2 separate regions of the Homo sapiens genome follow, and region 1 is linked to region 2. The links come from fine-mapping of genetic effects on gene expression. A gene starts in region 2. The other region holds a variant in brackets. All regions are shown on one strand. Distances are between the middles of the regions.

What was found. PIP is the estimated chance that this variant, and not a neighbour inherited with it, causes the effect.
Region 1: its variant is the best candidate, but not a certain one, in a credible set for the expression of ZNF688 in whole blood (TOPMed, PIP 0.65).

Annotation. Positions count from the first base shown.
Region 1 is chr16:30,821,528-30,837,178 of GRCh38, reverse strand. LOC124903679 (a long non-coding RNA gene) reads right to left here. Exons shown (of 2, transcript XR_007065052.1): 2 at 15,295-15,651. It also overlaps a transcript of BCL7C not described here. Among named protein-coding and RNA genes, the nearest start is that of ZNF629, 42 kb to the right of the region's middle. The variant T/G (reference allele first, on the strand shown) is at 9,055.
Region 2 is chr16:30,565,007-30,580,657 of GRCh38, reverse strand. It overlaps ZNF688 (zinc finger protein 688), which reads left to right and starts at 8,944. Exons shown (of 3, transcript NM_145271.4): 1 at 8,944-9,224; 2 at 9,535-9,648; 3 at 10,222-10,932. The coding sequence starts at 9,029. The coding sequence ends at 10,742. It overlaps ZNF785 (zinc finger protein 785), which reads left to right. Exons shown (of 3, transcript NM_152458.7): 3 at 1-2. RefSeq lists a silencer at 8,937-9,176 and enhancers at 10,039-10,602, 10,603-11,168, 12,128-12,237.

The DNA of each region.
Region 1 (15,651 bases), 260 kb before region 2:
TAAGGATATACATAAGTGTCAGTAGGGTGGCAAAGTTTCACTCAGTGACGAGAGTTGAAAAAAAATTTTTTAAAGAGATGGAGTCGGCCGGGCGCGGTGGCTCATGCCTGTAATCCCAGCATTTTGGGAGGCTGAGGCAGGTGGATCACGAGGTCAGGAGTTCAAGACCAGCCTGGCCAACATAGTGAAACCCTGTCTCTACCAAAAAAATACAAAAATTAGCCAGGTGTGGTGGCACGCACCTGTAGTCCCAGCTACCCAGGAAGCTGAGGCAGGAGAATCGCTTGAACCTGGTAGGCAGGGGATGCAGTGAGTCAAGACAGCACCATTGCACTCCAGCCTGGGTGACAGAGCAAGACTCTGTCTCAAAAAACAAAAAAAAAAATACAAAGAGATGGAGTCTTGGCCAGGCGAGTGGCTCACACCTGTAATCCCAGCACTTTGGGAGGCTGAAGTGGGTGAATTACTTGAGCCCAGAAATTCAAGACCAGCCTGAGCAACATGGCAAAACCCCATCTCTACAAAAAATACAAAAATTAGCCAGGCATGGTGATATGCACCTGTAAGTCCCAGCTACTTGGGAGGCTGAGGTGGGAGGATCGCTTGAGATGTGGAGTTTGAGGCTTCAGTGAGCCATGATTGTACTACTGCACTCCAGCCTGAACAACAAAGGGAGAACCTGTCTCAAAAAAAAAAAAAAAAAAAAAGACAGGGTCTCAACTCTGTTGCCCAGGCTGGAGTGCAGCAGCGTGATCATAAGTTCTCGGCAGCTCAGACCTCTCAGGCTAAAGTGATCCTCTCACCTTGCCACCCCACCCCAGTAGCTGGGACTACAGGCACATGCCATCATGCTGGGCTAATTTTTTAATATTTTGTAAAGATGGAATCTCGCTATGGCTGGGCTTTTTGGTTTTGTTTTGTTTTTGAGACGGATTCTTGCTCTGTCACCAAAGCTGGAGTGCAGTGATGCGATCTTGGTTCACTAAAACTTCTGCCTCCCAGGCTCAAGCGATTCTCGTGCCTCAGCATCCCAAGTAGCTGGGATTACAGGTGTCACACCACCATGCCCAGCTAATTTTTGTATTTTTAGTAGAGACGGGGTTTCACCATGTTTGCCAGGCTGGTCTCGAACCCCTGACCTCAAGTGATCCGCCCACCTCAGCCTCCCAAAGTGCTGGGATTACAGGCGTGAGCCACCACGCCTGGCCCCAGGCTGGTCTTGAACCCCTGGCTTCAAGAGATCATCCTGCTTTGTTTGGCCTCCCTCCCAAAGTGCTGGGATAACAGGCTAAACCATCGTGCTCTGCTAAAAAAATTTTTTCTTTTTTTTCTTCAGACGGAGTCTCACTCTGTCGCCCAGGCTGGAGTGCAGTGGTGCGATCTCGGCTCACTGCAACCTCTGTCTACCGGGTTCAAGAGATTCTCCTGTATCAGCCTCCCGAGTAGCTGGGATTACAGGCGCCCGCCACCATGCCCAGCTAATTTTTATATTTTTAGTAGAGACGGGGTTTCACCATATTGGTCAGGCTGGTCTCCAACTCCTGACCTCAGGTGATCCACCCACCTCGGCCTCCCAAAGTGCTGGGATTACAGGCGTGAGCCACCGAGCCCGGCCAAAAGTTTTCTTAAAGGTAAAGGTTTATATTGATCTTTCCAATTGAACATATCCCTGATGGCCTGTGGATGCACCAACCACACTGACAGAATCATTTGAGGCTGCCTTTAGGTTATCTCCGTCTTAGAGCTTAACAGGAAGTTATGTAGCTTGCCCAAGATTACACTACAAGTAATGGCTGGAATTGGGATTCAAACCCAGCACTGTCTAATTTCAGAAACTGAGGTCCTACAGGTTTCCTACAAGGCCCTGCCTCACCCTCTGCCTGCTCTCAAAAATACCCAGCTTAATCGCTTGCAAAAGACTTTCCACCAACTTGCGCCATTTGGAAGTCATAAATGGGACAAGTTGGTGGAAACTCAGTGAGGTGGGGAGAAGAGGAAACACTACCCAGATTCTTCTTTTCTCCGTACAGGATTCGGGAGTGAGAATGACGAGGAGAGCCCTTCACGAGAAGGGGCTGAAGACAGAGCCCCTCAGGAGGCTCCTGCCCAGGAGGGGCCTCCGGACAAATGTCCGGCCCAGTTCCATGGCGGTGCCGGACACCAGAGCTCCCGGGGGAGGCAGCAAGGCCCCGAGGGCACCCAGAACAATCCCCCAGGGTAAGGGGAGGTGAGTGGGCTCCCCAAGCAAGCCAAGACCCCTAAAGCCTCCCTTGGCTGCCCCAAGATCCAGCCACTACCTGTGCCCCGAGGGCGGAAAGAGCTTCCCAGCTCACCCACCGCGGTAACATCGGAGGGCGAGCGGCCCCACACCTGCCCGAACCTAAGGCCACAGCACCCATCTGGCTCGCCACTGGCGCCCGAATGCATGGGAAGGGCTTAGGGCAGAACTCGGACCACATCCAGTGCCTGAGGCCGCCTTGCTAGAGGCCTAGGGGAGGGGTGCACTGGGCTGCCTCGCCCACCTCCTCACGCACCCATGCGGCCACCCTCCCAGCGGTCTGAGTGTGCCATGCGAGGCGCCTGCCACCCCGGGAGAGGCGCCGAGTCCCGAGTCCTGCCGGCACTGAGCCTCCGGGTCCACAGCGGGCAAGGGCCGTGGCGGGGACAAGCGCAGGGGACCCGCCGGCCTCCCGCCTTCTGCAGCACCACGAGATGCCCACGTGGCACCTGGACGTCCATGCATATGTTGAGGCCCGTGCACGCGCAGAGACCCCAGCGCAGAAGCCGCCCCGCACGCCAGGGCTTATGTATGCCAGCGCTGGGAGACCTCCAGCGCCCGAGGACATACGGCAAGTGGTTCCACCAGGGTGTCAGCCTAGCAGGCCAACCTGGGAACCCATGTGGACAAGCGGCCTTTCAGCCCAGGCGCCCGCCTCGGGTGGAGGCGTGGAGACTTCTGGCGCAGCCCTGAGCTGGTGGCCTAACCTACCTGGAAAATCCTAGCCCGAGAAGCAGCGCGAGTGAGCCTTTTGGGTGGTTCCAAGGCCCTTCACCAAGCTCTCACTTCCTGACTTCACCGTTGGGTCTGTTGTACTAGGAAATAATAACGCCTCCCATTTATCAAGGGTTTACTCTGTACCAGGCATTGTGACTGATGTAATTTAGTTCTCACTGCATCCCTGTGGCATGGATATTCTCATTATCTGCATTTTGCAGATGGAGAAATTGAGTCTCTGAGAGGTTAAGGAACCTGCCCAAAGTCAGCAATGCAGTACCACTTCTTGTGCTGGGACACAGCGGGGTTAAGGCCGTGGGTTAACAGGGCCTCCATTTATGGAGAGCATTCATTTTTCTCTGGTGAATTACAGAAAACGCTTTCTACACTGAAGTGAGTAGATACTCCCTGGGATGAAAGTCAACATTCGTACCAATGATTGAGATGACAGAAATTTCACGCTTCAAGCCAATGCTTTAGGTTCAGCCCATGGAATTCTGGAATGACCTTTTCTCAGTCGTCACCAGGGTGATGTTGGTGAAGGAAGCTCCATTCCAGGACCAGCTCCTGTGTAGAGCCTTCCTGGAGGCCAACAAGGATGACCTCTCTCCATTTGCCATCCCACTGGGTTGTCTGGGAAGTTCATCCAGTTCCTCTGGGCTAAGATTTCCAAGTTCCCAAAAGGGAAACTAATCTTCAGGAGTTGGGAATGAAAAAATGGGATTTGGGGGAATTCCTGAAAGCATGTTATTCTGTATTTTTCATAACTTTCTGTGTTTTTTTTTTTTGTTTGTTTGTTTGTTTGTTTGTTTTTGAGACGGAGGTTTGCTCTTGTCACTCAGGCTGGAGTGCAGTGGTGTGATCTCGGCTCACTGCAACCTCTGCCTTCCGGGTCCAAGTGATTCTCCTGCCTCAGCCTCCCTAGCAGCTGGGATTACAGGCACGTGCCACTATGCCCAGCTAATTTTTTGTATTTTTAGTACAGAGAGGGTTTCATCATGTTGGCCAGGCTGGTCTCAAACTCCTGACCTTAGGTGATCCACCCACCTCAGCCTCCCAAAGTGCGGGGATTACAGGCGTGAGCCACCATGCCCGGCCACTTTCTGTATTTTTTAATAAATAAGAAATACACATTTAGTAGTAGTTACAAAGATCTGTAGGCCGTAGCAAATATTCAGTAACTGGAAGATGCCAATGAACATTGTTGGGTAGTATTTAAATAACAAAATGTTCAAATATTTGACAAGATTAACAACACTACACAGAATCACGAGTTGAAATTGCCAGTTTAGGCTGAGTGTGGTGGCACATGCCTGTAATTCCAGCACTTTCGGAGGGCAAGGCAGGAGGATCACTTGAGCCCAGAGTTTGAGGCTATAGTGAGCTATGATTGCACCACTGCACTCCAGCCTGGGCAACAGAGCAAGACCGTGTCTCTTAAAAAAAGAGAGAGGGAGAGAATTGCCAATTTAAGGACTTATGTGTTTCCAAAACTTGTTATTTATTAGAACATCATTTGTAGGATTTGTATAAAACACAGTGCACGTCAACATTAATATTTGTGGGAATGACTCGCTCTTAACAACAGGTACAGCCACAAATATACTTTTAGTGTGTCAACAGCTACAAAAAGTATTTTGACTACTTATCTCCTAGGTACTCTTATCCCATATTCTGGAAATGTCTACCTTAACTTTATTTATTTATTTTTTGAGACAGTCTTGCTGCAGCTCCCAGGCTCAGGTGCAGTGGTGCGATCTCGACTCCACCTCCCGGGTTCAAGCAATTCTTGTGCCTCAGCCGCCCGAGTAGCTGGGATTAGAGGCATATGCCACCATGCCCGGCTAAGTTTTGTATTTTTTGTAGAGACACGGTTTTGCCATGTTGGCCAGGCTGGTCTCGAACTCCTGACCTCAAATGATCCAACCGCCTCAGCCTCCCAGAGCACCGGGATTACAGTACCTTAACTTTAGACTCTGTGTGTCAACGTTGCCTTCTCTTGCTTTCAATTTGGCATCAGTGGATTTCTTTAAGCCAGGAATGCCTCTATGTTGATTGTTAAGCATTAATTCTCACAGGAGAATTATAATGCTTTTCCCCATTTTCCCAATTTCTTGACTGATCGATTTTGGGATTCAGAAGAACATACAGATTTCCTGATAAATTCCAGAAGGGATTTCCTGCATAGAAACACTACTTTGGGGCTGGGCACAGTGGCTCATGCCTATAATCCCAGCACTTTGGGAGGCCAAGGCGGTTGGATCATTTGAGGTCAGGAGTTCAAGACCAGTCTCGCCAACATGGTGAAACCTCATCTCTACTAAAAATACAAAAAAAAAAAAAAAATTAGCCGGGCATGGTGCTGTACACCTGTAGTCCAAGCTACTCGGGAGGCTGAGGCAGGAGAATCGCTTAAACCCAGGAGGTGGAAGTTGCAGTGAGCAGAGATTGTGCACTCCAGCCTGGGTGACAGAGTGAGATTCTATCTCAAAAAAGAAAAAGAAAGGCCGGGCGCGGTGGCTCATGCCTGTAATCCCAGCACTTTGGGAGGCCGAGGCGGGCGGATCACGAGGTCAGGAGTTCGAGACCATCCTGAACAACATGGTGAAACCCGTCTTTCCTAAAAATACAAAAATTAGCCAGGCATGGTGGTGCGTGCCTGAAATCCTACCTACTCAGGAGGCTGAGGCAGGAGAATTGCTTGAACCCAGGAGGCAGAGGTTGCAGCAAACTGACATCCCACCACTGCACTTCAGCCTGTGTGACAGAGGGAGATTTGTCTCAAAAGAAAAGGAAAAAGAAAGAAAAAGAAACACTACTCTGGACTGAGCAGCATCGGCAAGTCAAGTCTGCTGCTGGAATTTTACCTAGAACATTGAATCTTGCCTTTTTGGTTTCAGGGGCCTCAGAGCCAGAGAATCCAAGTATGGATCCTAGCTCTGCCAGTTCCTGGTGGCGAGGTCTTGGGCAAGTCACTTTACCTCTCTGAGCTTCAATTTAATGGATAGAATAATGTGTGGGGAGTCAATGCTTGCTTTTTGAGGCAATATTGTAGGAGGGTTAAGAGTGTGGCTCTGTAGTCAGTCTGAGGTTTGAATCCTGGCTCCATTACTTACCACCTCTTTGATTTGAGGCAAGTTACGAACCACTCCATTTTTCTCTTCTGTAAAGTGGTGGCACTGATTGATGATTGTGGCAGACATCATCTTCATAGAGTTTTCATGAGTTTAAATGGGATCACATATGAAAATGCTTAACATAGAACATGGTACATTGTAAGTGCTTGATAAATGCAAACCACTGTAGCTGTTACCTGCTGTATCTACCTCACCGGGCAGTCGTGAGGATGAAAGGGAGGCTGTGTTGGGGAAGTGCTTTCTAAACTGTGAAATGGTAGCCACACACTTCTCTTGCCTTCAGAGATGGGATGGTTGGAAGCTATGGGCAGACGTTAATGGTATCCCCAAATAAGGGGCCTGAGAATACTTACCTATGTCCACAGAAGGTAGCTGTGTTGAGGCGAGTGTCACCATGGGTAGCTGGAAAACAGTGCAAAATGCTCTCAGCTAAGGGTTAATTGTAGTCATGAGGGCAAACTCTGGCATGGTATGACTTGGGGCACCCTTGGGGACAGGGAGAAAACTGATTTTTCAGAAAGAGGCTTTAGAGGAAGGATCATGTTAAATGGAACCTGCCCACTATATGTTTTTGTTTTTGTTTTTAATTAGGGGCCGCATCAGAGGAAGGGGACATGTAATAGAAGGTGGTTGGAGGGCTCTGACTTTTGTCTGAAACTGCTATTGGTGAAAGGCTGAACTTAGGACACATTCCTGTGAGCGGCAACCAGTGCACCCTCTCGCACTGTGCATGCACCACGATGTCATTCATTGCCTAGACCGTAGACCAAACATGGCTCAAAGGGCCTTCCAGAGAGGATCGCATGTCATTCTGACAGTAGCCCCTCAACAATGTACAGATGAGGGCTTGAAGTCTCAGAAAGTCAAGTCCATTGTCCAAGGTCACACAACTGATATTAATATATCATGAAGTCAGGATTCAGACACAGTCCAAGCTCTTTTTTTTTTTTTTTTTTTTTTTGAGCCGGAGTCTCACTCTATCACCCAGGCTGGAGTGCAGTGGCACAATCTTGGCTCACTGCAACCTCCTCCTCCCAGGTTCAAGTGATTCTCGTGCCTCAGCCTCTCGAGTAGCTCGGACTATGGACTTGTGCCACCGCGCCTGGCTAGTTTACAGTCCAAGCTCTTAACCTCACCAGCCTGCCTCAACCACCAGGGGCCAGACTGCTGATCTTGAACAAGGAAGAAGAAAATCCAAATGGTTTCAGTGCCTAAATGTCCTCCTTTCTTGCCTTTGGTAACAACTTTTTCTGTCTCTGAATATCATTGCTACTTCTCTGGACACTGCTTCTCTGCTTCCAGGGCTGTTTTTCTTGCTTAGCCCTAAGTCAGCCTCGTTTGGGCCCTGTCCTTAGACTCTTTCTTCTGCACGGGTCTGTGAAAGATCTCCTTTATGTGCGCAGCTCCAGCTGTTGGTCCTTTCTCAGTAGTCTAACCCAGACTGCCCCTCTGAGCGCCAGCCTGAGCAGCCAGCTGCCTCCTTGACATCCCCTCTCTGGGTCTCATTCGTGATGTCTCCCCTAACACGGCTTGCTTCCAAAGTGCCACCTCCTCCCTGCCATGGCCTCTTAGTTCCAAATTGTGGCATAGTGGTGGGGAATTTAGAAAGGCTTCAAAGACGAAGCCTCTTGAATGAGTTCTCAGGGCTAGAGATAGACCACAGAGTGTGTTCTCTGAGCGCTACCAACAGTCTGGGGGTGAATTTGGAGAGTGGAATTCACCATTTAATCAGTCAGCTGGCTATGGAATGCCCAGCTGCATGCCAGGTCCAGCCGCTGGGGTGGAAAGATGCATTCATGAGTAGAACAAACAGGATTCCTGGCTTCAGGGAGCATCCAGGCTGTTGGAGAAGACAGACGTCATGCAATCCCCCAAAATACACTCTTATAAACTGTGATAAGTGTCATGAAGGAAAAGTTCTTGGTGCCATGAAAGCATATTGTAGATCTAAATTAGATTAAGATGGTCAAAGAAGGTCATTGTGAGAAAGTGACAATTACTGTCTCCCTGAGATCTGAATTGGGGAGGAGAATTCCATAGACAAGCAAGAGTAGGCACAAAAGACCCAAGGGTGGGAAAGAGCTTGGTATGGTGGGGAAACTGAAAGGCAATCCTTATAGTGGGAGCTGAGCATGCAGGGGCTTGGGCTGAGATAAAGCCAGGTGGCCTGGGCGGGGGTGATGGCAGAGCCTGGTGGGCCACAGTAAGGAGCCTGGAGGCTTTAGGTTAACTTTTTTTTTTTTTTTTCTTAAATTTGAGACACAGACTCACTCTGTCCCCAGGCTGGAGTGCAGTGGTGTGATCTTGGCTCATTGCAACCTCTACCTCCGAGGTTCAAGCGATTCTCCCACCTTAGGCTCTCAAGTAGCTGGATTACAGGTGCCTGCCACTACACCTGGCTAATTTTTGTATTTTTAGTAGAGAGAGAGTGTCACCATATTGGCCAGACTGGTCTCGAACTCTTGACCTCAAGTGATCCACCCTCCTCTGCTTCCCAAAGTGCTTACAAATCCCCAAAGGGATTACAGGCATGAGCCACCATGCCCTTCCTGGTTTAACTTTTTATTTGGAAATAATTTCAAAGTTACAGAAAAGTCTCAAGAATAGTACAATGGACATCTGCATAGCCTTTGTCCCAAATTCACCTGGTGTTCACATTTTACCCCATTTCTCTGTCACTGGCCATCTCTCTATTTAAGGTATATACAGATGACTTTGATTCCAATCTAGTTGAGAATAAGTTGCAGACCTCATGTTCCTCTACCCCTAAATAGTGTGTTTCCTCCCACAGTACAGTTATCCACTGCATTAAATTTCACACTGATCCAATGTGGTATCAAAGTTACTTTGTCACTTGTCTCAGTAACACCCTTTAGATGCCATTTCTCCTCTAGCACAGGATCAAGTCTAAGAATGCTGTAT[T/G]GCATTCGGTTGTTGTTTCTCTCTAGTATCCCTTAATCGGGAATGGTTAGCCTTTCTTTGTCTGCATGGTGTTGATATTATTGAAGAATTCAATCTTCCCCTTTATCTTAATAGAACATTCTTCATTTGGGGTTTGTCTACTTGTTTCTTCATTATAATATATGGATTATGCATTCCTGGCTGGAAGACTGTGTAAGTGATACTGTGTCCTTCTCAGTGTAACAGCTAAAGCCACACATGTCTGTCTGTTCCTCCGTGGTGATTTTTTTTAAAACAGAGTCTTGCTCTGTTGCCCAGGCTGGAGTGCAGTGCAGTGGTGTGATCTCAGCTCACTGCAACCTCCGCCTCCTGGGTTCAAGCAATTCTCCCTGCTTCAGCCTCCCTAGTAGCTGGGATTACAGGTACCCACCACCATGCCCAGCTAATTTTTGTATTTTTTAGTAGAGACTGGGTTTCGCCATGTTGGCCAGGCTAGTCTTGAACTCCTGCCCTCAGGTGATCCGCCTGCCTCGGCCTCCCAAAGTGCTGGGATTACAGGCGTGAGCCACCACACCCAGCCCCTCCTTGGTGATTTTAATTTTGATCACCAAGTCAAGGTTATTTGATTTCTCCAATCTAGAGTTACTATTTTTCCCTTGTAACAAGTAATCTATGAGGAGGTATTTTATAACCATGACTATATCCTATTCCACATCAAAAGTTAAATAGATGAGATTTAACACCTATTGATGATTCTTGCCTAAGAATCACGATGGTTACAGAATAGTAACTCAACCCCAGGACTCCCTCCACATTTATTAGTCAACACTTGGCATTCTTCTGTCCACTTATTTTAGATTCACTATTCATAGGGACTCTTGGATTTCTATTATTTTCCAATAAATTTTATAATTAGTTATTAATCTTAATTATTTTGGTGCTCAGATTGTCCCAGATTTGGCCGCTGGAAGCTCCTTAAAACTACAAGCCTGGATTTCATCCCAGCTTCAGTGTAGTGGCATGATTCAGTTTACGGATAAGATCACCGTGACTACTGTATGAGAATGCACTTATAGGGGCACACATGAGGAAGCAGGGAGACCCTCGTGTAGTCCAGGTGGGAGATGTGGCTTAGATTAGGGTTGTGACATACATGGGGAGGGAATGGATGGAGGTAAGAGAAACATTGGAAGCCAAGTGCTGTGGCTCACGTCTGTAATCCCAACACTTTGGGAGGCCAAGGCAGGAGGATCGCTTGAGGCCAGGAGTTTGAGACCTGCCTGGGCAACATAGCAACACCCTGTCTCTTAAAAAAAAAAAGTAAGAATTGGCTGGGCGCGGTGGCTCACACTTGTAATCCCAGCACTTTGGGAGGCCAAGGCAGGCGGATCACGAGGTCAGGAGTTCGAGACCACGGTGAAACCCCGTCTCTACTAAAAATACAAAAAATTAGCCGGGCATGGTGGCGGGCGCCTGTAGTCCCAGCTACTCGGAGAGGCTGAGGCAGGAGATGGCGTGAACCCGGGAGGTGGAGCTTGCAGTGAGCCGAGATCGAGCCACTACACTCCAGCCTGGGTGACAGAGCGAGACTCCGTCTCAAAAAAAAAAAAAAAAAGTAAGAATTAGCCAGGCATGGTGCTGTGCACCTATAGTCCTAGCTATTCGGAAGGCTGAGGTGGGAGGATCACTTGAGCCCAGGAGTTTGAGGCTCCAGTGAGCCATGATTGTGCCACTGCACTCCAGCCTCAGTAACAGAGTAAGACCCTGTCTCTAAAATAAAATAAAAACATTGGAGGTAGAATCAGCAGGATTTAGTGGTGGATTGAACGCACAGTCAGAAAGGGCAGAGTTGAGAGCCACCGGAGCATCCGGGGGAATGGTGATGTTGACTTAATACAGGGAAGACAAGCAGAGTAAGGGGTTGGGTGGTGGTGGGGGGAGGTGTTAGATTCGTTGAGTTTGAGGGGTCTGGAATATCCAGTGTTCTCTGGCACCCAAGTGAAGGGGTCAGTGAGACAACTATACTCTGGAGCTGACACAGAAGTCCAGACCAGAAGTAAACTTAAGGCCACGAATCCATGGTCTTGGATGAATCATGTTGTAAGGGGAGAATGTGGACTGAGATGGGAGTGCACTGTTTGGGGGTGCAGGGGTGTATGGCCAGAATTTGCAGTGGAGAGGTAGGTGGGGACCAGGGCACATGGCGCCTGGAGTGTCAGGCCAAATGCTTAGCGCTGGGGAGCCCACTGAAGAGTCTTGGGCAGAGCAGTGAATGACAGGTGTGATTGGCGTTTCAGCAGGACTGTTCTGACAGCCAGTACAGATGATCTGGGGGGGGCTGTGGCAGTGGCTGATGCTGTTGTCCTTTCTGAAGTAAATCTGCTCATCTCTTGCCCCTGGAGGTGGCTCAGGCGGGTCGCCATGCCTGAATGCCCTCTCCTTGTTCATCTGGGTGCAAAAACGATGATTAAAACACCTGTCTCAACTGCACTCACCAGCCCCCGGTGATGTGATAGCAAACCCATGTCTCCCTGCCTCATTGTGGCCAGAGCTATACAACCTGCTCCTTTACCAGCCCCTGGTGATGTGACAGCAAACCCATGTCTCCCTGCCTCATTGTAGCTAGAGCTATACAACCTGCTCCCGGGACCTTTTCCCAGCCAGGTATAACACAGCAGGTGTGAGTGTGCACAGGTTGGTCCCCAAGGCTTGCTGGAGTCTGTTTGGGCACCATAATCCTCTGCCCTGGCATGCTTTGAGTTCACTGTGGTCTCTGTCATTCCGGCCAGTGCTCATTCAAACCTGTATATTGTCCCCTCCCACCCCGCACAGCCCATAGAGGGTGGGTTCAAGTCGGAATGAACATCCTGGGGTGCAGGCATCCAGGAAGTATGCAGTCCTGCCTATGGGGTGCTGACAGCCCCTTGGCAGGACACAGATAACCAAAGGCAGAAATTGTAAGAGACCAGAGGGAGGGGCAGGTGCTCTGGGAGCCCAGGAAAGGCCAGAGTGTTTCTGGTTGGAGAAATCAGGGTCGGTCCTCAGAGAAGATGGCGTTTGAACTGGGACTTGAGGAGAAGACTATTTTCCATTTCACACAAGAAATCTTTGATTATTCAGTAAAAAGAGGAAATATAAGAAAAAAAATCAGACTAGTCTGGCCAACATGGTCTAAAAATACAAAATTAGCCAGGCATGGTGGCGGGCGCCTGTAATCCCAGCTACTTGGGAGGCCCAAGCAGGAGAATCGCTTAAACTCGGGAGGCGGAGGTTGCAGTGAGCCGAGATCATGCCACTGCACTCCAGCCTGGCAGACAGAGCAAGACTCCATCTCAAAAAAAAGTAAAAAAAAAAAAAAGAAAAAAAAGGCCGGGTGCAGTGGCTCATGCCTGTAATCCCAGCACTTTGGGAGGCCGAGGTGGGTGGATCATGAGGTCAGAAACTCGAGACCAGCCTGGCCAATATGGTGAAACCCTGTTTTTACTAAAACTACAAAAATTAGCCGGGTGTGGTGGCAGGTGTCTGTAATCCCAGCTACTCCGGAGGCTGAGGCAGGAGAATCACTTGAACTCGGGAGGCGGAGTTTGCAGTGAGCTGAGGTAGCGCCAGTGCACTCCAGCCTGGACGACAGAGCGAGACTTCATCTCAAAAAAAAAAAAAAAAAAAAAAGGAAAAAGAAAAACAATCAAAGCCCCACTTCCTCATATTTTATTGACATTGTCAACACAGCCATTATAGGTTGCATAACAATCTATTAGGTGGATCCTGCATAGTTAGTCCTCTTATTGTTGGACTAATTCATTCCAGGCCTCAGGACATGGGCTTCCAGCCTGTGGCTGGGCAATGGGGCCAGATGCAACTCAGGAATCAGTGCTTGAGTCCATCTGCTCATTTTCTTCCACTCATAATGTCTATTAAGAACTCAATGCCTACCGGGCCCTGTGGATCCAATGAGTATCAGGACATGGTTCCTGTCCTGTCAAGTCTACTAGTAAGTGAGTCATAAGTGAAAAGAATTAGTTGTAGAGAAACCTGTAGAGTGCCACAATCAAGGCACAGGATGTTCAAGATGCGGTGATGACACAGACACAGGAGCTTCAGCCCTGGGAACAGGAGAGGACACCAGGCGGGGCTCGAGGAGTGAGAGGGGACAGGCCTGATGACACACGCCAGGGGACCAAGCCCGCGGGGATGCCTCCAAGCGTGTCTCTGTCCACAGGCAGAAAACTCATCCCACCACCTCTCAGGCCTCTGAGTGTTTGCTTTTTCTGTTTTCTATTTCAAATATTCCATTTCTCCCATTTTTGGAGGAACTGTTTTTATACTACTTTCCAAAATCCCAACTTGCAAGCATGCTTAATTCGTTTCATTTTTCTTCTATTTTTGACACTAAAAGCATTTAATGCTGTTTTTACCTCTGCATATAGCTTTGGCTGTTAATCCTACTTTTTAAATTATTTTCTAAATCGTCTGTTTTTTAATTTTTTTAACTCTTGATTTACATCTTGTCCTAAGGATAATTTGAGGTGCTACTTACGTTTCAAAATTTCTAAGTGGTATGTTTTACATTATTGTTAGTTGTATTGCATTTTGATCTGAGAATGGTTTCTAGAATTTCTACTTTTCAAAATTTACCAAAATATTCTTTGTAGCTTAATAATTATTTAATTTTGTCCACTGTCCATGAAACTTGAAAAGAAGGTGTACTGTTTGTTTTCAGGGTAAGAAATTTATATGTTCATATTTTCTATGTCCTTATTTATTTTTTGATTATTTGTTCAGAAAATGTGTTAGAATATTTCCAATAAAACTGTTTCTCATGTTTTTCCTTGTATTGTTATATATTTTATTTCACAGTTCTTTGTTGTTTATTTAACATAAGAAAAAAAAAAAGGCTGGGCGTGGTGGCTCATGCCTGTAATCCCAGCACTTTGGGAGGCGGAGGTGGGCGGATCACAAGGTCAAGAGCTCGAGACTATCCTGGCCAACATGATGAAACCCCATCTCTACTAAAAATACAAAAATTAGCCGGGTGTGGTGGTGCATGTCTGTAATCCCAGCTACTCAGGAGGCTGAGGCAGGAGAATCGCTTGAACCCAGGAGGCAGAGGTTGCAGTGAGCTGAGATCTCGCCATTGCACTCCTGCCTGGGCAACAGAGCAAGACTCCATCTCAAAAAAAAAAAAAAATTAAACCCATTCGAGGCTGGGCCCAGTGGCTCACACCTGTGATCCCAGCACTTGGGAGGCCGAAGTGGGCAGATCTCTCGAGCTCAGAAGTTTGAGACCAGCCTGGGCAACATGACGAAACCCCTTCTCTAACAAAAAATACAAAAATTAGCCAGACAGGGTGGCATGTGCCTATAGTCCCAGCTACTTGGGAAGCTGAGTGGGAGGATCACTGGAGCCCGGGAGGGAGAGGTTGCAGTGAGCTGAGATCACACCACAGCGCTCCAGCCTGAGCGACAAGAGCGAGACTCCATCTAAAAAAAAAAAAAAAAAAAATTAGGGCTGGGCGCAGTGGCTCACGCCCATAATCCCAACACTTTAGGAGGCCGAGGTGGGCAGATCACGAGGTCAGGAGATTTAGACCATCCTGGCTAACACAGTGAAACCCCGTCTCTACTAAAAATACAAAAAATGGCCGGGCACGGTGGCTCACACCTGTAATCCCAGCACTTTGGGAGGCTGAGGTGGGCGGATCACGAGGTCAGGAGATCGAGACCATCCTGGCTAACACGGTGAAAACCCATCTCTACTAAAAATACAAAAAAATTAGCCGGGCTTGGTGGCGGGTGCCTGTAGTCCCAGCTACTAGGGAGGCTGAGGCAGGAGAATGGTGTGAACCCGGGAGGCGGAGCTTGTAGTGAGCCAAGCTCGTGCCACTGCACTCCAGCCTGGGCAACAGTGCAAGACTCCATCTCAAAAAAAATAAAAATTAAAAATATAGGCCGATTCTTCCTCGTGCTTGGCATTGAGCTCCCGCAGCCGAGCCTGGGTCATGCCTGCCCTGCCCGGCCCCGGGTGCACACTGCAGCCCCTGCAACACGGGAGGCTGCTAAGCGTGAGTGGCGGTGTCCAGCAGGCGCTGTGTGGCAGGGAGGGCATCCATGGCTGCAGCCAACAACGGCAACAAGCCCAGAGTCCGGAGGAGTATCTGCTTTGCGGCAGGCCACGATACAGAGGGCTCCCATGTTGCTGTCGGTTGCTACAGGTGTGAACGAAGGGGGATGAATGCAGAAATGAAGACCAAGACAAAAAGATCTGTTTTGAAAGAAGGGGTCAGGGGGCTCCTTGCTTCTAGTGAACAAGGGCAGCCCTGAGCTTCCACAGCCCTTCGTATTTATTAGGTAGAAAGAGCAGGGAGGGAGAGGTAACGGTTGGTCAGTTGCTTGATTTATCACAGGTACACATAATTGCTTTCTTTGTACAACAGGCTTCAGATGTTCCTATAGGTAATCACAAGGAACACTGCGCTTGGGGCGTGACTGCTCTCAGCACTCCCTCTGTGGGCAGATGCAGCCCTCAGTTTTCCAACATCCTGCTTTCATGAGAACAGTTTTCTGTTTACTCATATAGCCTCCAGTGGTATACTGAGTTGGTCACGACCCACATTTTCT
Region 2 (15,651 bases):
AACGGCCAGGCACGTTGGCTCACACCTGTAATCCCAGCACTTTGGGAAGCCGAGGCGGGCAGATCACGAGGTCAGAAGATCGAGACCATCCTGGCTAACATGGTGAAACCCCGTCTGTACTAAAAATACAAAAAAATTAGCCAGGAGTGGTGGCAGGTGCCTGTAGTCCCAGCTACTTGGGAGGCTGAGGCAGGAGAATGGCGTGAACCCGGGAGGCGGAGCTTGCAGTGAGCCGAGACTGCGCCACTGCACTCCAGCCTGGGTGACAGAGCGAGACTCCGTCTCAAAAAAAAAAAAAAAAAATTAGCCAGGCCTGGTGGCGTGCACCTGTAATCCCAGCTTCTTGGGAGGCTGAGGCAGAAGAATGGCTTGAACCCAGGAGGTGGAGGTTGCAGTGAGCCAACATAGCGCCACTGCACTCCAGCCTGGGCAACAGAGCAAGACTCTATCTCAAAAAAAAAAAAAAAAAAAGGCCTGGTGTGGTGGCTCACGCCTGTAATCCCAGCACTTTGGGAGGCTGAGGTGGGTGGATCACGAGGTCAGGAGATCAAGACCATCCTGGCTCACACAGTGAAACCCCATCTCTACTAAAAATACAAAAAATTATCCGGGCATGGTGGCGGGCGTCTGTAGTCCCAGCTACTGGGGAGGCTGAGGCAGGAGAATGGCATGAACCCGGGAGGCGGAGCTTGCAGTGAGCTGAGATCGCGCCACTGCACTCCAGCCTGGGCGACAAAGTGAGACTCCAGTCTCAAAAAACAAAACAAAACAAAAAACAACAGTTAAGAGAGTTCTTTCTGGCCCATTTAGATCTGCTAGCCCTACTTTTGAAGAGGAAACTTTTGAAGGAATGAACAAAAGAGGTAGGTGGGACTAAGCATTTCTGCATTCCAGGACTGGTGGTCAGTGACTCAAATATCTCTTTGAAAAGACTGCTTCTTTGAATCCTTGGGTTCCAAGATAATTAATGGGAACTGGTGCCGGGCACGGTGGCTCACACCTGTGATCCCAGCACTGTGGGAGGCTGAGGCTGGTTAATCACTTGAGGTCAGGAGTTTGAGACCAGCTGGGCAATATAGTGAAACCCCATCTCTACCAAAAAATTAGCCAGGCGTGGTGGCACATGCCTGTAGTCCCAGCTACTCAGGAGGCTAAGGCAAGAGGATCACTTGAGCCTGGGAGACAGAGGTTGCAGTAAGCTGAGATGGCTCCATTGCACTCCAGCCTGGGCTACAAAGCAGGACTCTGTCTCAAAACAAAAACAGATACAAAAACTGGGAACGGGGTGTTATCTTTACTTCACCACATAGCCTCTCCTGAATTGGTGGACCTGGATTCCTAGCTTGGCTCAGTCCCCACTGGCTGTGTGGCCTTTAGCATCACCTAGATTCTACAAATAACATTTTTCTCTATTTGTTTTACACATGTCAATCTGCCTATCCATCCCTCTATCCATTCATTTATCCATTTTATTAATGTATTTCAAAGTAAGTTGCAGACATCATTACATTTCACTTCTAAACACTTCAGCATACAGCTGAGTTTTATGCAAGAAACTTAAGCTCTCAGCTGGGTACAGTGGCTCACACCTGTAATCCCAGCACTTTGGGAGGCTGAGGCAGGAGGATTGCATGAGATTGGGAGTTTGAGACGAGCCTGGAAAACAGCAAGACCTCATTTCTACTAAAAATTTTAAAAATTAGCCGAGCATGGTGGGGGAGGGTGAAGAAGGAGGATAGCTTGAGCCCAGGAGTTTGAGGCTATAGTGAGCTATGATGGCGCCACTTCAGTCTGAGTAACAGCAAGACACTATTAAAAAAAAAAAAGAGCCAGGCGCAGTGGCTCACACCTGTAATCCCAGCACTTTGGTAGGCCAAGGTGGGCAGATCACCTGAGGTCAGGAGTTTGAGACCAGCCTGACGAACATGGAGAAACCCTGTCTCTACTAAAAAAAAAGAAATACAAAATTAGCCAGGCATGGTGGCACATGCCTGTAATCACAGCTACTCGGGAGGCTGAGGCAGGAGAATCGTTTGACCCCAGGAGGCGGAGGTTGCAGTGAGCCAAGATCGTGCCATTGCACTCCAGCCTGGGCAACAAGAGTGGAACTCTGTTTCAAAAAAGAAAGAAAGAAATTCAGCTCCCACTTAAAGTTCAGTTGTACTCTGTTATTGACAAGTAAAGTCGATTGAAGCCCAGTCATCTCCTGTATGTTGTGTGACTTCTCATAATTATCTGATCAAGAGTCTTGAAGAAACATTTACAATTTGATGGGCAATAAAATAATTTGAAAGCAAGAGCATTTTGTTGTTCTTGTTATTTCTTGAGACAGGGTCTCACTATAGCCTAGGCTGGAATGCAGTGGCACAGTCACGGCTCACTGCAGCCTCGACCTCCTGGGCTCAGGTGTTTCTCGTTCTCATCTCAGCCTCTTGAGTAACTGGGACTACAGGCATATGCCACTATGCCCAGCTAATTTTTGTATTTTTTGTACAGATGGGGTTTTGCCCAGGCTGGTCTTGAACTCATGGGCTCAAGTGATCTGTCTATCTGAGCCTCCCAAAGTGGTAGGATTACAGGTGTTAGCCACTGTGCCCGGCCAATTTTTGTATTTTTATAATGAGTGGCAGGAAAAACAACTCATCAGCTACACGGAACAGTTTTAGTCTTACTTGAAAGTTTGTTTCAGGCCTGGCGCTATGGCTCATACCTGTAATCCCAGCACTTTGGGAGGCCGAGGACGGTGGATCACTTGAAGCCAGGAGTTTGAGACCAGCCTGGCCAACATGGCAAAACCCCATCTCTACTAAAAATACAAAAATTAGCAGGTTGTGCTGTTTTCAGCTACTTGGGAGGCTGAGGCACGAGAATTGCTTGAACTCGGGAGGCAGAGGTTGCAGTGAGCCGAGATTGTACCACTGCACTCCAGCCTTGGCCACAGAGTGAGACTCTGTCTTAAAAAAAAAAAAAAACCACAGGCCGGGTACAGTGTGCAGTGGCTCATGTCTGTAATTCCAGCACTTTGGGAGGCCAAGGCAGGCGGATCACGAGGTCAGGAGATCAAGAGCATCCTGGCCAACATGGTGAAACCCTGTCTCTGCTAAAAATACAAAAACTGGGTGTGGTGATGCGTGCCTGTAATCCCAGCTACTCAGGAGGCTGAGGCAAGAGAATCGCTTGAACCAGGGAGTTGGAGGTTGCAGTGAGCCAAGATCCCACTACTGCACTCCAGCCTGGCGACAGAGCGAGACTCCATCTAAAAAAAAAAAAAAAAAAGTTTCTTTCAATCTGTTTAGTTAATATTTTTATTGTTCAGCTTCATCTTCTTAAGTCTTCTGCATACTTAGTTCAAAGAGAAGTGATTTACAACATAGGATCTGAAGAAACAAAAGTATTTTTGGTTCAAGTTGCTACTCTGTTTAAAAGGAGAATCCAAATAGCCACTCACCTGTAGTCTTAGCTACTCAGGAGGTGGAAGTGGGAGCATAGATCACTTGAGCCCAAGAGTTCCAGGCTGCAGTGAGCTTTGATCTTGCCACTGCACCCCAACCTGGGTGACAGAGTGAGACTCTGTTTCAAAATGACAATAATAGGCTGGGCATGGTGGTCCACACCTGTAATCCTAGCACTTTGGGAGGCTGAGGTGGGAGGATCACTTGAGCCCAGGAGTTCCAGACCAGCCTGGGTATCATGGAGAGACCCCATCTCTACAAAAACGAAAATTAGCCAGGCATGGTGTTGCACACTTCTAGTTCCAACGACTTGAAGGCTGAGGTGGGAGGATCACCTGAACCCAGGGAGGTTGAGGCTGCAGTGAGCTGTGATCATACCACTGCACTCCAGCCTGTGTGACAGAGTGAGAACCTGTCTCAATAATAATGATAATTAATAATAATAATCATAATAGAAGGAGAATCAAAATAAAACATGCAGATGGTCAACAGGTACATGAAAAAATGCTCAACACCACTAATCATCAGGGAAATGCAAATCAGAACTACAATGAAGCCGGCCTGGTGGCTCACGCCTATAATCCCAGCAGCTTAGGAGGCCGAGGTGGGCGGATCACCTGAGGTCAGGAGTTTGAGATCAGCCTTCCCAACATGGTGAAACTCCATCTCTACTAAAAATACAAAAATTAGCTGGGTGGCTGGGCGCGGTGGCTCACGCCTGTAATCCCAGCACTTTGGGAGGCCGAGGTGGGTGGATCATGAGGTCAGGAGATCGAGATCATCCTGGCTAACACAATGAAACCCCATCTCTTCTAAAAATACAAAAAATTAGCCGGCGTGGTGGCGGGCACCTGTAGTGCCAGCTACTCCAGAGGCTGAGGCGGGAGAATGGCGTTAGCCCGGGAAGCGGAGCTTGCAGTGAGCCAAGATCGCGCCACTGCACTCCAGCCTGGGCAACAGAGCGAGACTCCATCTCAAACAAACAAAAAAATTAGCTGGGCATGGTGGTGCACGTATGTAATCCCAGCTACTCAGGAGGCTGAGGCAGGAGAATCGGTTGAACCCAGGAGGGGGAGGTTGCAGTGAGCTGAGGTTGCGCCACTGCACTCCAGCCTAGGCTGCAGAGCGAGACTGACTCAAAAACAAAAAAGCACACAATGAGATATTATCGTACCTTAGTTAGAATGGCTGTTATTAAGAAGACAAAACATGACAGGTATTGGCAAGGATGCTAAGAGAAGGCAACTCTTGACTGGGCGCAGTGGCTCACGCCTGTAATCCCAGCATTTTGGGAGGCTGAGGTGGGTGGATCACCTGAGGTCGGGAGTTCAAGATCAGCCTGACCAACATGGAGAAACCTCATCTCTACTAAAAATGCAAAATTAGTCAGGAGTGGTGGCACGCGCCTGTAATCCCAGCTACTTGGGAGGCTGAGGCAGGAGAATCGCTTGAACCCTGGTGGCAGAAGTTGTGGTGAGCCAAGATTGTGCCATTGCACTCCAGCCTGGGCAACAAGAGTGAAACTCCTTCTCCAAAAAAAAAAAGAAAAAAAAAGAGAAGGGAACTCCTACACACTGTTGGTGGGAACGTAAGTTAGTACAGCCACTACTGAAAACAATATGGAGATGTCTGAAAAAAACAAAAACAGAACTACCATGTGGGCTGGGCATGGTGACTCACACCTGTAATCCCAGCACTTTGGGAGGCCAAGGCTGGTCGATCACCAGAGGTCAGAAGTTCACAATAGCCTAGCCAACATGGCAAAACCCCTTCTCTACTAAAAATACAAAATTTAGCTGGGTGTGATGGAGGGTGCCTGTAATCCCAGCTACTTGTGAGGCTGAGGCAGGAAAATCACTTGAACCTGGGAGGCAGAGGCTGCAATGAGCCGAGACCAGGGCATTGCACTCCAACCTAGACAACAAAAGCAAAACTCCGTCTCAAAAAAAAAAAAAAAGAACTACCATGTGATCCAGCAATCCCACTACCTGGAATTTATCCAAAGGAAAAGAAATCAGTATATAAAAAAGATAACCTGCATCTCCGTGTTTACTGTAGAGCCGTGTTTACAATAGCAAAGATATGGAATCAACCTAAGTGTTGATCAGGGGACAAATGAATAAAGAAAATATGATATATATACACAGTGGACTTAAGCCATAAAAAATGAAATCATGTTTACAGCATGGATGGAACTGGAGGTCATTATGTTAAGTGAATAAGCCAGACACAGAAAGGCAAATATCACATGTCCTCACTTACATGTGGGAGCTAGAAAAGTTGATCTCATGGAGGTAGAGAGTAGAATGATACCAGAGATTGGAAGGGTGTACGTGGGTGGGAGAGGTGGATGAAGAGAAGTTGGGTAATGGGTACAAACATACACTTAGGAAGAAGGGATAACTTGTAATGTTCAATAGCAGAGTAGGGTGACTGTAGTTAACAAAGTACTGTAAATTTCCATAGCTAGAAGAGAGGACTTGAAATTTTCCCAACACATAGAAATGTTAAATACTCAAAGTGATTGATACCTTAAATATCCTGACTTGATTATTGTACATTCTATGTATGAAGAAAAGCAAAATATCACATGAACTCCATAAATATGTAAAAATTTTGTGTATCAATATATTTTTTGTTTTGTTTGTTTTTTTTTTTTTTAGATGGAGTCTTGCTCTGTCACACAGGCTGGAGTGCAATGGTGTGATCTTGGCTCACTGCAACCTCTGCCTCCTGAGTTCAAGCCATTCTTGTGCCTCAGCCTCCTGAGTAGCTGGGACTACAGGCGTCCGACTCCACACCCAGCTAATTTTTGTATTTTTAGTACAGACGGGGTTTTGCCATGTTGGCCAGGCTGGTCTCGAACTCCTGACCTCAGGTGATCCTCCCGCCTTGGCCTCCCAAAGTGTTGGGATTACAGGCACAAGCCACTGTGCCCAGCCCAATTTTTTTTTCTTTTTGAGACGGGGTCTCACTCTGTCACGCAGGTTGAAGTGCAGTGGCATGATCTTGCTCACTGCAACCTCTGCTTCCTGGGTTCAAGGAATTCTTGTGCCTCAGCCTCCTGAGTAGCTGGGACTACAGGTGTGCACCACCAGACCTGGCCAATTTTTGTATTTTTAGTAGAGATGGAGTTTCAGCATGTTGCCCATGCTGGTTTCTAACTTCTGGCCTAAAGCAATCTGCCCACCTCAGCCTCCCAAAGTGCTGAGATTACAGGTGTGAGCAACTGGGCTGGGCCTAAATTAAATATTTTCAAAATTTAAAAAATACTCATTTCTAAGGATATATTTTTCCTTATATAATTTCTACAGTATTCACCACATGGAGTGCAGTGAGGCAGTTCCAGAACTCAAGGTAATAATGTAAGCATATTAATAATATTTAATTATTAACAATTAATAATTAATCAATTAATAACATATGCATATGAGATCAGCAGGAGTCACACTAAAAGCCAAAAAGCATTTCAGGTGAAAAACAGCAAGGGTAGGCCAGAAAACACAAAGAAATCTTGACTGAAAAGTCAGCAATAAAAAACACTATTGAATAAAAAGGAAGGCTCGATATACTAGGGCTGGCAGGGGAGCCAAGCAAGTAGATCCAGAGCCAGAATGACAGCAGGGACCTGGTAGGCCTTGCTTGTTATCTCCAGCAACCAGCCCCACGCTTAGCAAACAGTATTCTGCATCCTGTATGATTGCAGGTATATTCCAAATGTGGGGATGAAGGCAACTAGTATTTACAGTCCAATGCCACCAGCCATGAGGATGACCCATCTTGGCTGAAAAATAAAGACCTTAAATCTAGGAAGCGGAAGATACAACCCAGGACAGCAGGAAGGGGAGACCCGGTATGAGAAGAACTGAGGCCCAACCCAGTTTAGAGAGGAGACTGAAGGCTAAAGGAGGAAGGTTTCCCAGGAAAAAAAAAATTAGGATTTGAAAGTTGATGCTATCTTTGATAATTTGGAACAACGTAAATAAGTAGAAATGGCAGGGCCGGGCGCCGTGGCTCACGCCTGTAATCCCAGCACTTTGGGAGGCTGAGGCGGGAGGATCACCTGAGGTCGGGAGTTCGAGACCAGCCTGACTTAATATGGAGAAACCCCGTCTCTACTAAAAATACAAAATTAGACGGGCATGGTGGCTCATGCCTGTAATCCCAGCTACTTGGGAGGCTGAGGCAGGAGAATCGCTTGAACCTGGGAGGCGAAGGTTGCGGTGAGCCTAGATAGCGCCATTGCACTCCAGCCTGGGCAAGCCGAGATAGCGCCATTGCACTCCAGCCTGGGCAACAAGAGTAAAACTCCTTCTCAAAGAAAAAGTAGAAATGGCTGGGAACCGTGGCGCATGCCTGTAATCACAGCACTTTGGGAGGCCGAGGCAGGAGAATTGCTTGAGGCCAGGAGTTCCAGACCAGCCTGGGCAACATAGCAAGACCCTGTCTCTGTTTTAAAATTTAAAAATTAGCCAAGCATTGGGTGTGCGCCTGTGGTCCCAGCTACTCGGGAGGCTGAGGTGAGAAGATCGCTTCAGCCCGGGAGGTCGAGTCTGCAGTGAGCTAGGATCGCACTGCTGGGCCACAGAGCAAGACCCTGTCTCAAAACAAACAAAAAATAAATTCATGTATGTTAGCAACAATTACTATTTAATTTAAAACTTCCCCATTCCGATTCCATCCTCACCAAGCACGTTCCTTCGCCTGCAGCTTCGGTCTAGAGCCTGAGCGAGCCGAGCTGCGGATGCCAGGGGCTGGGTGGACTCCGCAGCTAAGCTACTGTAAAACACGCACCTGCTTCTACCGCGGGTGTACACATGGTTTGCCAGGGTGTGCGCGTCTTCCCAAGGGGTCTGGGGACCAAATTCCAGCTCCCGCCATCGGGAGGCACGGTAAGAGACCGTAGGGGACACAATCCCGAGCACCGCAGATGCCGAGGTCTCCGCTGCGCTCCAGTCTGTCAACAGAGGCTTCAGGACCGCGGGGTCCCTTCAAATGCCCCGCCAGTCCCAGGCCAATCACCGCGCAGCTTCTTCCGGGATCGTCGCCAATCATCGGCCGTTGCGTATTGCGGGTACAGAGGGGTAAGTGAAGCTTCGGGCCCTTACATCTTTCTTGAAGGCAAGAAGCCTCTCCTCTACTTCCCAGACACCCCGCCTCCCCCACTAGAAAAAGCAGCCGAAGCGGCTTTATTTAAGGGCAAGTGGGACGATGAGGCCAGAGAAGTCAGAAAGGCTCCATATTTGATATGGTCAAATAATGGCGCCCTTAAGAGCAGCCTGTGACAATTGAAGGGTGGTCGCCATATTTTCAGAAGGCACCTTCCGGGTCCCTTAACCCGGGTGTCTATGTCCAAGCGGCCATGAAGTGAATAAACACTGAGGAATTATATTTGTCCCTATCAGAATCCTCGAATCCCTAGCAGCCAGTCCCTGCTACTTCGGTTGCCTCGGCTGCGTTCGGACGCCACGGCTGGGCGGGGCCGCCCTTCCTGTGGACAACGACAGCTGAGGCCGGGAGCGGGGAGGCGGCGGCTCCAGGGACCTGGCGGCCGCCGATCGGGGCTGCGAGGCCCCATGGCGCCGCCCCCAGCCCCGCTCCTGGCGCCGAGGCCCGGGGAGACCCGGCCTGGTTGCAGGAAGCCCGGGACTGTGAGCTTCGCGGACGTGGCCGTGTACTTCTCCCCGGAGGAGTGGGGCTGTCTGCGGCCCGCGCAGAGGGCTCTGTACCGGGACGTGATGCAGGAGACCTACGGCCACCTGGGCGCGCTCGGTGAGAGCCCCGGGTCCGAGCCCCCTCCTCCTTCACCGGGTTCACAGGGGAGATGATGTAGAAGGGCCGAGAGGACTGTGAGCCCTAATCCCGCACTCTTGCACCAACACCAGCAGCCACCTCCCGTTCCCAGGGCTTCAGGTACCCCCTCGGGAGTGTTTTCACCCGCATCCATTTCATTCAGGCAGCAGCACTGCAGCCCCTTCCAGGTTGAGTATAAGCTCCGAGGGGGTGCCCTCAGCCTGGAGGGGAATGCCATCTTCCCACGATGGCCTCTCAGGCCCGCGCTGTGATCCCTGTTCTCTCCCAGGATTCCCAGGCCCCAAACCAGCCCTCATCTCTTGGATGGAACAGGAGAGTGAGGCTTGGAGCCCCGCCGCCCAGGATCCTGAGAAGGGGGAAAGACTGGGAGGAGCTCGGAGAGGTGAGGGATAGTCCCGGGTCCCCCCACTTGGTTTTCCAGGGCTTCCTGTCTAGCAGAGTTTCTTTTCAGGCCCCCACTTCCAGCATCCCTAAAGAAATTCAACTGTGTTGGGTACTAGAGGAGTAAAGAAGGCAGACCTGGTACAAAGTTTTCAGAACATGGGACAGCGGTCCTGTGAGGACTGGGAGCCCAGTCCAACCAGGCACTCCAGCCTGGGTGACAGAGTGAGACTCCGTCTCAAAAATAAATAAATAAATAAATAAATAAATAAATAAATAAATAAATAATAGCCCCTGCTTCCTGAGCACTTCCTAAGTGCTTAACATGCATCTACTCAGCTAAACCAGTAACGCTGTGAAGTCAAAAGCCATTATTATTCCCATTTGATGCATAAGGAACCAAGGCTCAGATAAGGCACTTTTAGGAGATCTGAATCCTGTTTACCTTGTTCTAAAGCCTGTGTGTTAATCACTGGACAGAACTTCCCTCACTGCCTTAAGTGAAAAGCATTCTATAACCTGAGACAGTCTGTGCAAAAGTGTTTGTAAGTGTAACTTAATTCCGGTTTCCCAGGAGATGTCCCAAACAGGAAGGAAGAGGAACCGGAGGAAGTCCCAAGAGCCAAAGGGCCTAGAAAGGCTCCTGTGAAGGAGAGTCCTGAAGTGCTGGTGGAACGCAACCCTGACCCAGCTATTAGCGTGGCCCCGGCACGGGCACAGCCACCCAAAAATGCTGCCTGGGACCCGACCACAGGAGCACAGCCCCCGGCACCCATACCCAGCATGGATGCTCAGGCCGGCCAGCGGCGCCACGTGTGCACGGACTGCGGCCGCCGCTTCACCTACCCCTCACTGCTGGTCAGCCACAGGCGCATGCACTCGGGGGAGCGGCCTTTCCCCTGCCCCGAGTGTGGCATGCGCTTCAAGAGGAAGTTCGCAGTGGAAGCGCACCAGTGGATCCACCGCTCCTGCTCCGGGGGGCGGCGGGGCCGGAGGCCTGGGATCCGGGCTGTGCCTCGGGCCCCCGTCCGAGGTGACCGGGACCCGCCTGTGCTCTTCCGGCACTACCCAGACATCTTCGAGGAGTGCGGCTGAGCGGCACCGCAGGCTGGAGTTGAGCCTGACCTTGGCACGAAGGACTGACGGATCCCTGAGGTGGGCCACTGAGTCGGGGACTCCGGAACTGAAATTCATGCCCTGGGCTTTCCTCAAGGATCCCTCAAGTTTCCAACTTGTAAAAAGAAAAGTGCCTGTAAAGATTCGAATAGATTAGACTTGCCACCCATCTCCCCAGTCTTTTGTTTAACAAAAAAAAAAAAAAAAAAAAAAAAAAAGAAGAGAGTGAGACCCTGGACTCATTTCAAAGTGTTATCTGAAGATCAGGTGCAACAGAGACCTTTATATCATCTCAGGAACTAGCCACTCCTTATCTATTTCAGATGCAGATGCTGAGGGGGACCAGGGCCTGGGGAGGGGACCTACATGGAGGGCGTGGTCAAACCCTGGCTAATTGTCATCAGCAGGGGACCCAGACACTGGAGTGGATGGGAGTAGAATAGATGCAGGTGGCACAAATCCAGCCTCTGTTGGGAGACCAAGGAGGGAGGATCGTTTGAGTCCAGGAGTTCAGACCAGCCTGAGCAACAGGCTATCTAGCGATATCTAGATATCTAGGATATCACTATCTAGAGATAGTGAAATCCTATCTCTACAAAAAAAAAAAAAAAAAATGAACCAGGCATAGTGGCACATCGTGCCTGTGGTCCCAGCCACTTGGGAGGCTGAGGTGGGAGGACTGCTTGAGCCCAGGAGTTCAAGGCTACAGTGAGCTATGATTGTGCCACTGTACTACAGTCTGGGCAACAGAGCAAGACTTCATTTCTTTCTTTTATTTTTTTTGAGACAGGGTCTCACTCTGTCACTAAGGGTGGAGTACAGTGGCGCCATCTCAGCTCACTGCAACCTCTGCCTCCCAGGTTCAAGCAATTCTCCTGCCTCAGCCTCCTGAGTAGCTGGGATTACAGGTGCACGCCACCATGCCCTACTAATTTTTGCATTTTCAGTAGAGACGGGGTTTCACATGTTAGCCAGGCTGGTCTCAAACTCCTGACCTCAGGTGATCCACCCACCTTGGCCTTCCAAAGTGCTGGGATTACAGGCATGTGCCACTGCGCCTGGCCAAGACTCCATTTCTTAGAAGAAAAAAAAAAAAAAAAAAGCTGGCGCCATGGCTCATGCCTGTAATCCTAGCACTTTGGGAGGCCGAGGTGGGCAGATCACCTGAGGTCAGGAGTTTAAGACCAGTGGCCAACATGGTGAAACCCCATCTCTACTAAAATACAAAAATTAGCTGGGTATGATGGTGGGTGCCTGTAATCTTAGCTACTCAGGAGGCTGAGATGGGAGAATTGCTTGAACCCAGGAGACAGTGGTTGCTGTGAACCGAGATTGCGCCACTGCACTCCAGCCTGGGCAGCTGCGTGAGACTCTGTCTCAAACAAACAAAACAAAACAAAAACTAGTCTCTGCAACTTACCCCAGGCACAGCTGGTAAGTCATGTGAACTTCCTGAGTCTCAGTGCCTCCTCTGTAAAATGAAGATGAATAATATCTACCTCAAAGGGTTACCGTGGAGACTGACATTTTAACAAGATGTATGACATAGTAATTGTGCAATACACATTTGTTGAAAGAGTGAATTACTGTGGATGGTCTACACTTTAGAAAGTGTAAAGAAGCCTGCCAGGGAGCCAGGGCATGGATATCAATAACCATGTTTGCAGATAAGTAAACTGAGACTCAGAGAGATAACGTGATGCTCTCAAGATTTCACTCCCATGTGGCAGCATGGGTGGAAATGAACACAGAGCCCAGATGTCTCTACCACTTCCTTTGAGAAGTCAGATCTGGACAGAAAACACGGGCTGGGAACTCAGGATGCAGGTCCCAGCCCAGCCTGCTTGGGGAGTGTGAGCAGAAAACTAAGAGTCCCAGTAAGTGCCCCTTTTCTTATCCTTTCCTTTTCTCTTTTATTTTTTTGAGATAGAGTATCACTCTGTCACCCAGGCTGGAGTGCAGTGGTGTTAACATGGCTCTCTATAGCCTTGACCTCCTGAGCTCAAGAGATCCTCCCACCTTTGCCTCCTAAAGTGCTGGGATTACAGGTGTGAGGCACCTCGCCTGGCCAGTTTTTACTTAGAAGGCACAGTCATGCTGGGCGTGGTGGCTCACACCTGTAATCCCAACACTTTGGGAGGCCGAGATGGAAGGATCTCTTGAGCTCAGGCGTTTGAGAACAGCCTGGGCAACATAGTGAGGCCCCCATCTCTACAAAAACAAAAATCAGCCAGGTGTGGTGGCGCGTGCCTGTAGTCTCAGCTACTTGAGAGGCTATGGCAGGAGGATCACTTGAGCCAGGGAGACTGAGGCTGCAGTGACCCATGATTGCGCCACTGCACTCCAACTTGGGCGACAGAGTGAGACTCTGTCTCAAAAAGAAAAACAAAAAAGAAGGTACAATTGGCACTTAGTGACTGTGTGTTGAGTGCCTTCTGTTGAAGGGACTGTGCTAGGTAATAGGGGAATTCCACGATGACGAAAGCTGACCCCATTCATTCATTCATTCAGCAAACACCCTCCTGAAGCCTCTGTGGGTTTTTGTGCTGGGCTCCAGTGATACAGCTGAGTCAGGGCCCACGTTCGACGTGGGAAGAGATTAATTGGCGCTATGACAGAGGAAGCCCAGAGGCACCACCTCACCTAGGCTGGTTGGTGATATGCCAGGAAATGTTCCTGGGAGGAGATGGCTGTGCTTCCCATAGCCTATGAATTGGTGTTGGGGGAGATTTTCAGGCAGAGGAAACAGCAAAGGAGTCTTGCTTCATAGAAAGAATAAAAGACACTTTGGGAGGCTGAGGCGGGCAGATCACCTGAGGTCAGGAGTTCAAGACCAGCCCAGCCAACATGGTGAAACCCTGTCTCTACTAAAAATACAAAAATTAGTTGGGCATGGTGGTGGGCACCTGTAATCCCAGCTACTCGGGAGATTGAGGCAGGAGAATCGCTTGAACCCGGGAGGTGGAGGTTGCAGTGAGCCGAGATCGTGCCACTGCACTGCAGCCTGGGCGACAGAGTGAGACATTCTGTCTCAAAAACAAAAACAAAACAAAACAAAAAAACTAGATAAGGAAGAATGGGAGACAGATGCAGCCGAGAAGTGGGGTCAAATCTGGGAGGGCCACAGAGGCCACCAGAGCAGCTTGAGATACATTCTGTGGCACTGAGGAGCCACAGAAAGTTCTTGAGCAAGTGCAGTGCTGTTTGCCAGGTGCTATCAGAAGATATCTTTGCAAAGCAGTGTGGGTGTGACCTGGTTGGGGGACAGAGCTAGACACTAGAGATCTGTTGGGCATTTTTTCCTAAGTGAGGGTCACTGGGAGCTGGGACCAAGGTGGTGACCTTGGAATTAGGAAGAAAGACACGAGAGGCTTCTGACATAGAATCTGCAGCTCGGTGACTGCCAATATGAGCCAGTAAGACCCAGAGGTTCCAGTATGGAGAGCCGGAGCCAGGGGACCTGATGCCCACCAAGGGGTGATCAGGAGTAGGAGGGTGTGAAGGCCAAGGGTGATCCGTTCTGGGGAGCAGGGAGGCCAAGGAGAAGGTGCAGCTGGAGAGAGGAGGCCCTGCCAGTGAGGGAGGAGCAGAACCAGGTGAAGTGTGTCAAGCATAAAGCTGCTCTGGGCAGCCCCAGCTCTGGTGCTGGACACAGGGCAAGTGCTGTCTGCTATTTCTCTTTCTCATTGGCGCATTTAACAAATAGCTGCTAAGCGTTTACCATGCACTAGCTGTTATTCTCCATGCCAGAACATAGCAGGGGAAACAGACACAGGAACCCTCTTGGAGCTTACTTTCTACGAGGGAGAGACAGGTGATAAACCAGAACACGAATGAAGGAAGGGACTGCGAATGCAAATACTAAGGCTTATGAAGGAGCTCGAACAGCGATGTGCAGAAAGAGCCTGCTGCAGACCGATACTGAGGCTGCGCCATGTTGAGAAAGAGCCACAGGGAACAGGGTTAGGGGACAGGGAGTGGGGAAGGGCAGGGTTCAAAGGCTTGGGGCTGGGGTCGGGGAGAGTAGGGGGTAGAGACGTTTCCAAAGAAAGGGAACAGCAAGTGGGATGTTCCAAGCTAGGGATGAGTTCCCACAAGGTGCAGAAAGGACATCTGTAGCTGTGCTGAGACACCAGGTGGAGAAGATTAACAGATGGGCTTAGGGAGGGGGAGGCGCTCCCACAAGGCTCTCGCTTCCCATGATGCTAAGTATCTTTTCTTCCTTCTCTTTCTAACCCCCACCCCGACACCACGTCTTCTTTCTTTGTGACAGGGTCTCGCTTTCTCTCCTGGGCTGGAGTGCAATGGTGCAATCATGGTTCACTGCAGGCTTGATCTCCCAGGCTCAAGTCATCCTCCCACTTCAGCCTCCCAAGTAGCTGGGATCCCAGGTGCACACCACCGCACTCAGCTAATTTTTTTTCCAGACAGGGTCTCACTATGTTGCCCAGGCTGGTTTCAAACTCCTAGGCTCAAGAAGTCCCCCTGCCTCAGCCTCGCAAAGTGCTGGGATTACAGGTGTGAGCCACTGCACCCAGCTCCATGATTCTCAGTATGTTGGGACATCACTGGGTTGTCTTTGTTTTTGTTTTGTGGTAAATATACATAATATACAATTTATCATTTAGACTATTTTTGAGTGTACAGTACAGTTCAGTGGCAAAATGTGTAATAGTACTATTGTAGAACCATCACAGCCCTCCATCTCCAATTTTTTTTTTCTTTTTTGAGACAGAGGAGTCTCACTCTGTCATCTAGGCTGGAATGCAGTGTTGGGATCTCAGGTCACTGCAGCCTCTGCCTCCTGGGTTCAAGCAATTCTCCTGCCTCAGCCTCCTGAGTAGCTGGGATTACAGGTGCGTGCCACCACGCCCAGCTAATTTTTGCA